2 linked regions of the Homo sapiens genome follow. The protein of the gene in region 2 purifies or fractionates together with the protein of the main gene of each other region. This does not show direct contact. Each region holds a gene or a part of one and is shown on either strand. Other genes may lie near its edges.

Evidence for each region.
Region 1: the proteins of LRRC37A2 (region 2) and NCS1 purify together in Homo sapiens (affinity purification with mass spectrometry; one large-scale study listed by BioGRID and IntAct). This does not show direct contact.

Annotation. Positions count from the first base shown.
Region 1 is NC_000009.12:130,178,904-130,182,403, reverse strand, and holds part of NCS1 (neuronal calcium sensor 1), read right to left. Parts: intron 1-3,500. UniProt on the Homo sapiens protein: Neuronal calcium sensor, regulator of G protein-coupled receptor phosphorylation in a calcium dependent manner. Directly regulates GRK1 (RHOK), but not GRK2 to GRK5. Can substitute for calmodulin. Stimulates PI4KB kinase activity.
Region 2 is NC_000017.11:46,511,032-46,515,267, forward strand, and holds the start of LRRC37A2 (leucine-rich repeat-containing protein 37A2 isoform 1 precursor), read left to right. Parts: upstream 1-1,436; 5' UTR 1,437-1,681; coding exon 1,682-4,236.

The DNA of each region.
Region 1 (3,500 bases), on a different chromosome or scaffold from region 2:
TGCTCCAGCAGCGGCTTGGATGCTCCCAGGGACTGGGCGCTCCCTCCCCTTGGCAGGGAACTCCAAGGTTTTGAGGCTCACAGAGACGGTGGGAGGCAGGCGCCGGGTGGGAAGGGCGTGGCTCTGGCAACATAAAGATCTAAGCCTGAACCCCGACTGGCCATCGATTGGCTGGCTGGGGGGACTTGGGCGTGTCCCTGAACTTGCCTGGGCCTCCCTTTCCTCATCTGTAAAATGGGTATAAGGGTCCCTACTCCCAGGGCTTTGGGGAGAGGGCAGCACTCAGCACTCCTGGTCCCGAGTGCCCACTGGGTAAACGGTGGTCGTCATTGCTGTCATCTCCCCCCAACCACAATACTCCCCTACTGCCTTGGGGAGTGGCAGCTTATCACCTGGTTCCAGACCTGGCAGCTGAGCTCCCAGCCTTTGGCGCGGCTCCCGGCCTGTCTGTGCCTCCCTCCCCAGCGTCCCCCACCCCCAGGCACACCTACATTTACAACCTGTACAGAGCTGCCCTCACACACCACCACACGCGTGCGCACAGGAGTGCCCGGCTCACCCACTCCTGACACACGCCATGACCCCGTCACTCACGCTCGGAGCGTGCCCACGTGAATCGGGACTTGCCCACGTGCCCCGCAGCACCCGCCCTGCCTGCAACACCCACACCAGGCACCCGGGCCCGCTCACGCTCACCTGCACACCTCCATGGCGGCTCCCTGGCACCTCCACCAAGCAGGGGCCCCTCACCGCGGCCCAGGGCTTCAGTGTGCAGACTCCAGGCTGAGAGGGGACGGGGATCAGACCCCAATGGCACCACTCTCCAGCCGTGGGACCATGAGCCAGCTCTCATCCACTCTGAGCCTCCATTTCCTCATCTGTAAAAAGGGGACCCCCACAGGGCTCCTGGGTGGAATTGGTGAGGAACACACGTGAACACCAAGGACAGGCCTGGGTCACACGGAACATGCCTAATACCAGATTCTCACCGCAGTGACAGCCCCTGACCGTCCCGTGCTGCAGCTCGCAGATCCTCCACCACCACCAGGAGCAAAAGGAGGGCCGAGATGAGCCGCCAAGTTCAACGTCTGTTATTCCTAACCCCGCACACGGCTCTGTGTAGTAGAAGTCCCTTATCCCCAACCCCCAGATAAGAAAACTAAGGTATCGAGAGGCTAAGAACCATGCCTGAGGCTGAGAAGATCCAAGGGCCTGGGTCTTGAACACCACAGCCCAAGCACACTCCGTCCCTGGGGCCCTGACGTACCTTCCCCACTGGGTCTCACTATCTGGGAATTTGAACATGGTACAGAAAGGGAAACTGAGTCCCAGAGGGAACTAGTGACTCCAAAGCCACTGTCCAGGCCATGATGGTCCTGGGACTTAATCCCAGGCAGGCTGCTGTCCATCCTCTGAGCCCCTGGGCGCACAGGAGCCTAAAAGCCAGCCTGCCACAACCCTTCTCCCTCCCCAACTCACCAAGCCAGGAGCCAGACACAGAACAATCCGGCCACCAACCCAGCCGGGCCACCACAGAGGCCCTCCATGTTTGCCACTCGCTCCCAATTCAGCCAAGAGCCTGTGACAGCTCACTCTGTGATTGCCCAGGGGAGTGGCCAAGAACGGCTGTCCCTGATACAGCCGGTCCAGCAGCCTCCTTCCTGGGAGAGCATTTACTGAGCACCTACTACGTGCAGATCCCTGTGCAAACATCCCTGTCTCATGCGCAAGGGACCTCAGAGCTCAGAGACGTAAGGAGCTGGCCAGGATTGCCCAGCCAGGAAACAGCAGAACTGACCTTCAAGTCCTCAGCACCTGCCGTTCTGCCCTTGGTCAGAATATGACCCCAATCTCAAGTTACCTAGAAACGCCGCAACGTAATCTCTGACACTCTCTGCCCTGCAAAATAGATCACACACAGAATGTGAAAATTGATTCATCTTGTTATGACCATAATGATGATGTGCTTTTTAATTTATATTGGCTTTTTTTCTTACCAGAGTGCTAGAGATATCTGGGGCAAGATGAACCCCAGCAGAAGACCTCAGTGAAGAAGTCAAGACATCCCTAGGCCAGGCGTGGTGGCTCACGCCTGTAATCCCAGCACTTTGGGAGGCCAAGGTGGGTGCACCACTTGAGGCTAGGAGTTTGAGACCAACCTGGCCAAAATGGCAAGACCCCATCTCCACTAAAAATACAAAAATTAGCCAGGTGTGGTGGTGCACATTCTAATACGAGCTACTCAGGAGGCTGAGGCAGGAGAACAGCTTGAACCCGGGAGGTGGCGATTATAGTGAGCCGAGATCGCGCCACTGCACTCTAGCCTGGGTGACGGAAGTGAGATTCCATCTCGATAGATAGATAGATAGATAGATAGATAGATAGATAGATAGATAGATAGATAGATAAAAAGAAGGCAAGACATCCCTATCTGAACCCCAACAGCCAACTCACCTTGGCACAGTGGGAGGTGCCCTGACAGGAACAAAGCAGTTCCTGCCACATATTTGCTGTGTGACCTTGGGGAAGATGCTTCACCTTTCTGGCGCTTAATTTGCCTACTTGTAAAATGAGGGCATTGAACTACTTGGCCCCAAGAGTCTCCTCCAGCTGAAAGATACTAGGATTCTATTTCATAGTATTCAAAGAAATAAATGTTGACACAGTGAGCCACCTCTTTTCCTCCCCATAAAATTGGCAAGAAGTAAGGAAAACAGTAATACCCAGTGCTGGCAAGAATGCAGAGAAATAGGCACTCTCTCATCTACTTTTGCTGAAAATGTAAACTGGAACAGCCTTTCTGGAGAGCAATTCAACAATTTTTAATCAAAAGCCTTTCAAAACATCCCCAGCCTTTTAACTCCATAACCCCGTTCTGGGTTCTTATCTTCAAGAAAAGATAAGTGCAAAGATTTAGTGCAAAGACATTCATGCAAAGATGTGGTACAAAGATGTTCATCTCAGTATTTTCAATATGGGAGGAGGAAGCTAACTGTCCAATGACAGGAGATTAAATAAAATATGTTCTGTCCATATGATGCACCATGAAAAAAAATCATGCTCTAAAAGCATAGTTCATGATACGGGCAAACATTCAGAATGGTCAGGTTTTTTTAAGTCAGAAAATAAAAAGTAGATAATCCCAAATTTACAAGGTAATGAAAACTATGAGTCCAGGGACAGCGGCTCATGCCTGTAATCCCAGCACTTTGGGAGGCCAAGGTGAGTGAATCACCTGAGGTCAGGAGTTCGAGACCAGCCTGACCAATATGGTGAAACCCCGTCTCTACTAAAAATACAAAAATTAGCTGGGAGTGGTGGCGGATGCCTGTAATCCCCTACTCGGGAGGCTGAGACAGGAGATTTGCTTGAACCCGGGAGGTGGAGATTGCAGTAAGCCAAGATCGTGCCACCGTACTCCAGCCTGGGTGACAGAGTAAGACTCTGTTTCAAAAAAAAAAAGAGGAGGGAAGGGGAGGGAAGGGGAGGGAAGGGGAGGG
Region 2 (4,236 bases):
ATGATATTAGCACAATGGTGAAATCACCTAGTGACCCATTTCTCAAGCTCCTCACGTGGCAAGCAATGCATGACTGCATATGAAAGCTCTTAAATAGGGATTGTTTCTAAATTAATCTCAAAACAGTCATTATTTACTATTTATGGAATTTTTTTTAAAAAAAGGAGCAAAAGTATCATTTCAGTGGGAACTTAACTTGGGGCTACAGTGTTTTATTTAACTTTTACCCCAAAGTTGCAAAGTGTTTTGAAATTTTTCCCTGTAAAATAATTATTTTAATTCAATTTAAATAAAACCCACCAAGGAGACTTCAAGCTTTAAGAAGTCTAGCTTCCTGTGAAATGTGAGAGGAAGTCAGCACTCATTTCAGAAATCTGATTATAACAATAGCTCCATCCCTAAATGAGGTGAATCTTGGAATCTCTTCCATTTTATTTTATTTTATTTTTTTGAGATGGAGTTTCTCTCTTGTTGCCCAGGCTGAAGTGCAATGTTGTGATCTCGGCTCACTGCAACCTCTGCCTCCCAGGTTCAAGCGATTCTCCTGCTTTGGCCTCCTGAGTAGCTGGGATTGCAGGTATGCACCATCACACCTGGCTAATTTTGTATTTTTAGTAGAGACGGAGTTTCACCATGTTGGTTAGGCTGGTCTCGAACTTCTGACCTCAGTGATCCCCCCACCTCGGCCTCCCAAAGTTCTGGGATTATGGGTGTGAGCCACCACACCCGGCCCCCCTTCAATTTTAAAGCCATCACTATGCACCCTATGTCTATGCCAGGCACTAAAATAAGATGAAGCACCTTCTTGGAGTTTACATGCTGGTAATTATGCCAGACAGTAATAAAATAGGTAAGAACGGCTGTGGGGGAAGTCAGCTGGGTTCTAGTTACAGTCGCATTTCAGGAAATGATTTAACATGCTGACTTTAACAACCTAAGCCTCTTCTCCATGTGTGCACACAGGGTAGATCTCTGAACACAGGTGACCCTAGAAGTGCTGTAACTTCTAGGGGAATGGCTGTGTTGAGTCAAGGCAGGATGACAGTTCAGCCTCCTCCCAGGCTAGTGCAAAGGGCTCTTCACTCGGATTAAAACCTTCTCTCCCAGACCGAATTGCCAACTCCCAACACCCCTCCTACAGAAAATGTGGAGTCCTCGCTTATTCCCTGGCAGCCCCTACCTAATAGGGTGGTGAATTAATTATCAAACATGCGACAGTTTAGCGAAAATGGCAACACTTTGGAATAAGTGACTGTAATGTGCATCCTGGCGCCCATTTTGCAGGTCAGTTGCTCTCCCTGGAAGGAAGAGTGTTCTCGGATTTCACCTTAAAGGAGGAAGGCTGCCAGAACTGAACTAGCACTTCTGAATATCCTGAGGCGAGGTCCGGTGACTTCCTTGGGAAGCTCTGCCGCGCCCCCACCCCACCCTACCCCACCCTACCCCACCACAGCAGGCGCTGGAGTCCTGGGACCACCAGGGTCTGAGGCCCAAATCCTTCCTCACTAAGGGGAGGAGAGGGGTGTTCCGGCAGGGCAGGATGGGAAGGCGTGCTTGGGCGGGATTGTGACATAAGAGTGCCCTGGTGACATGGAGCAGATCTGTGACATAAATAAAGGTGTCATAAAGACAGGGCGGGGCTCACGCTTAGAAGGGGCACGAGCGTCTCGGAGCTGCCAGAATGTCTTCTGCTCAGTGCCCGGCACTAGTGTGTGTCATGTCCCGGCTGCGTTTCTGGGGCCCATGGCCCCTCCTTATGTGGCAACTATTGTGGCTACTAGTTAAGGAGGCTCAGCCTCTGGAGTGGGTCAAGGACCCGCTCCAGCTCACCTCTAATCCCCTGGGGCCGCCTGACTCCTGGTCTTCCCACTCCTCCCATTTCCCACGGGAATCTCCCCATGCGCCTACTCTCCCAGCAGACCCGTGGGACTTTGATCACCTGGGGCCCTCTGCTTCCTCAGAGATGCCAGCCCCACCCCAGGAATCGACTGAAAATTTGGTTCCATTCCTGGACACCTGGGATTCAGCTGGAGAGCAGCCCCTGGAGCCAGAGCAGTTCTTGGCTTCACAGCAGGATTTAAAGGACAAGCTGAGTCCACAGGAAAGACTCCCTGTTTCGCCCAAGAAGCTGAAGAAAGATCCAGCTCAGCGTTGGAGCCTTGCTGAGATTATTGGAATTACACGCCAATTATCCACACCTCAGAGTCAGAAACAGACTTTGCAGAATGAATATTCCAGTACAGATACACCGTATCCCGGTAGCCTGCCTCCAGAACTCCGGGTGAAGTCAGATGAGCCTCCAGGGCCCTCTGAGCAAGTTGGACCTTCTCAATTCCATCTAGAGCCCGAAACTCAAAATCCAGAGACCCTTGAAGACATCCAGTCCTCTTCACTCCAGCAAGAAGCCCCAGCACAGCTTCCACAGCTCCTTGAGGAAGAACCTTCTTCAATGCAGCAGGAGGCCCCAGCTCTGCCTCCAGAGTCCTCTATGGAGAGTCTAACTCTACCGAATCATGAGGTGTCAGTTCAACCTCCAGGTGAGGATCAAGCTTATTATCACTTGCCCAACATTACAGTTAAACCTGCAGATGTGGAGGTTACCATAACTTCAGAGCCTACCAATGAGACAGAATCTTCCCAAGCCCAGCAGGAGACCCCAATTCAGTTTCCAGAGGAGGTGGAACCTTCTGCAACCCAACAGGAGGCCCCAATTGAGCCTCCAGTTCCTCCTATGGAGCATGAACTTTCCATCAGTGAGCAGCAGCAGCCAGTTCAGCCTTCTGAGTCTCCTAGGGAGGTCGAATCTTCTCCGACCCAGCAGGAGACCCCAGGTCAGCCTCCAGAACATCATGAAGTCACAGTTTCACCTCCAGGTCACCATCAAACTCATCATTTAGCTTCACCCAGTGTCTCTGTGAAGCCTCCAGACGTGCAGCTCACCATAGCAGCAGAGCCTAGTGCAGAGGTGGGAACTTCTCTAGTCCACCAGGAGGCTACAACTCGGCTCTCAGGGTCAGGTAATGATGTAGAACCTCCCGCCATCCAGCACGGGGGCCCACCTCTGCTTCCAGAGTCATCAGAAGAAGCTGGACCTTTAGCAGTTCAACAGGAGACTTCATTTCAATCTCCGGAACCTATTAATAATGAGAACCCCTCTCCAACCCAGCAGGAGGCTGCAGCTGAGCATCCACAGACCGCTGAGGAGGGTGAGTCTTCCCTAACCCATCAGGAGGCCCCAGCTCAGACTCCAGAGTTCCCTAATGTAGTTGTAGCTCAACCTCCAGAGCATTCACACCTGACTCAAGCCACAGTTCAACCTTTGGATCTGGGGTTTACCATCACTCCAGAATCCAAGACAGAGGTTGAACTTTCTCCAACCATGAAGGAGACCCCAACTCAGCCTCCTAAGAAAGTTGTACCCCAACTTCGAGTATATCAAGGGGTAACAAATCCAACACCAGGTCAGGATCAAGCTCAGCATCCAGTGTCACCCAGCGTTACAGTTCAACTTTTGGACCTGGGACTTACCATCACTCCAGAACCTACTACGGAGGTTGGACATTCTACACCCCCGAAGAGGACTATAGTTTCTCCAAAGCATCCTGAGGTGACACTTCCACATCCAGACCAGGTTCAGACTCAGCATTCACACCTGACTCGAGCCACAGTTCAACCTTTGGACCTGGGGTTTACCATCACTCCAAAATCCATGACAGAGGTTGAACCTTCTACAGCCCTGATGACTACAGCTCCTCCTCCAGGACACCCTGAGGTGACACTTCCACCTTCAGACAAGGGTCAGGCTCAGCATTCACACCTGACTCAAGCCACCGTTCAACCTCTGGACCTGGAGCTTACCATAACTACAAAACCTACTACAGAGGTTAAACCATCTCCAACCACGGAGGAGACCTCAACTCAGCCTCCAGACCTGGGACTTGCCATCATTCCAGAACCCACTACAGAGACTAGACATTCTACAGCCCTGGAGAAGACTACAGCTCCTCGTCCAGACCGGGTTCAGACTCTGCATCGAAGCCTGACTGAAGTCACAGGTCCACCTACTGAACTAGAACCTGCTCAGGATTCACTGGTGCAGTCTGAAAGTTACACCCAAAATAAGGCTTTAACTGCACCAGAGGAACACAAGGCCTCCACAAGCACCAACATATGTGAGCTCTGTACCTGCGGAGATGAGATGTTGTCATGTATTGATCTCAACCCAGAGCAGAGGCT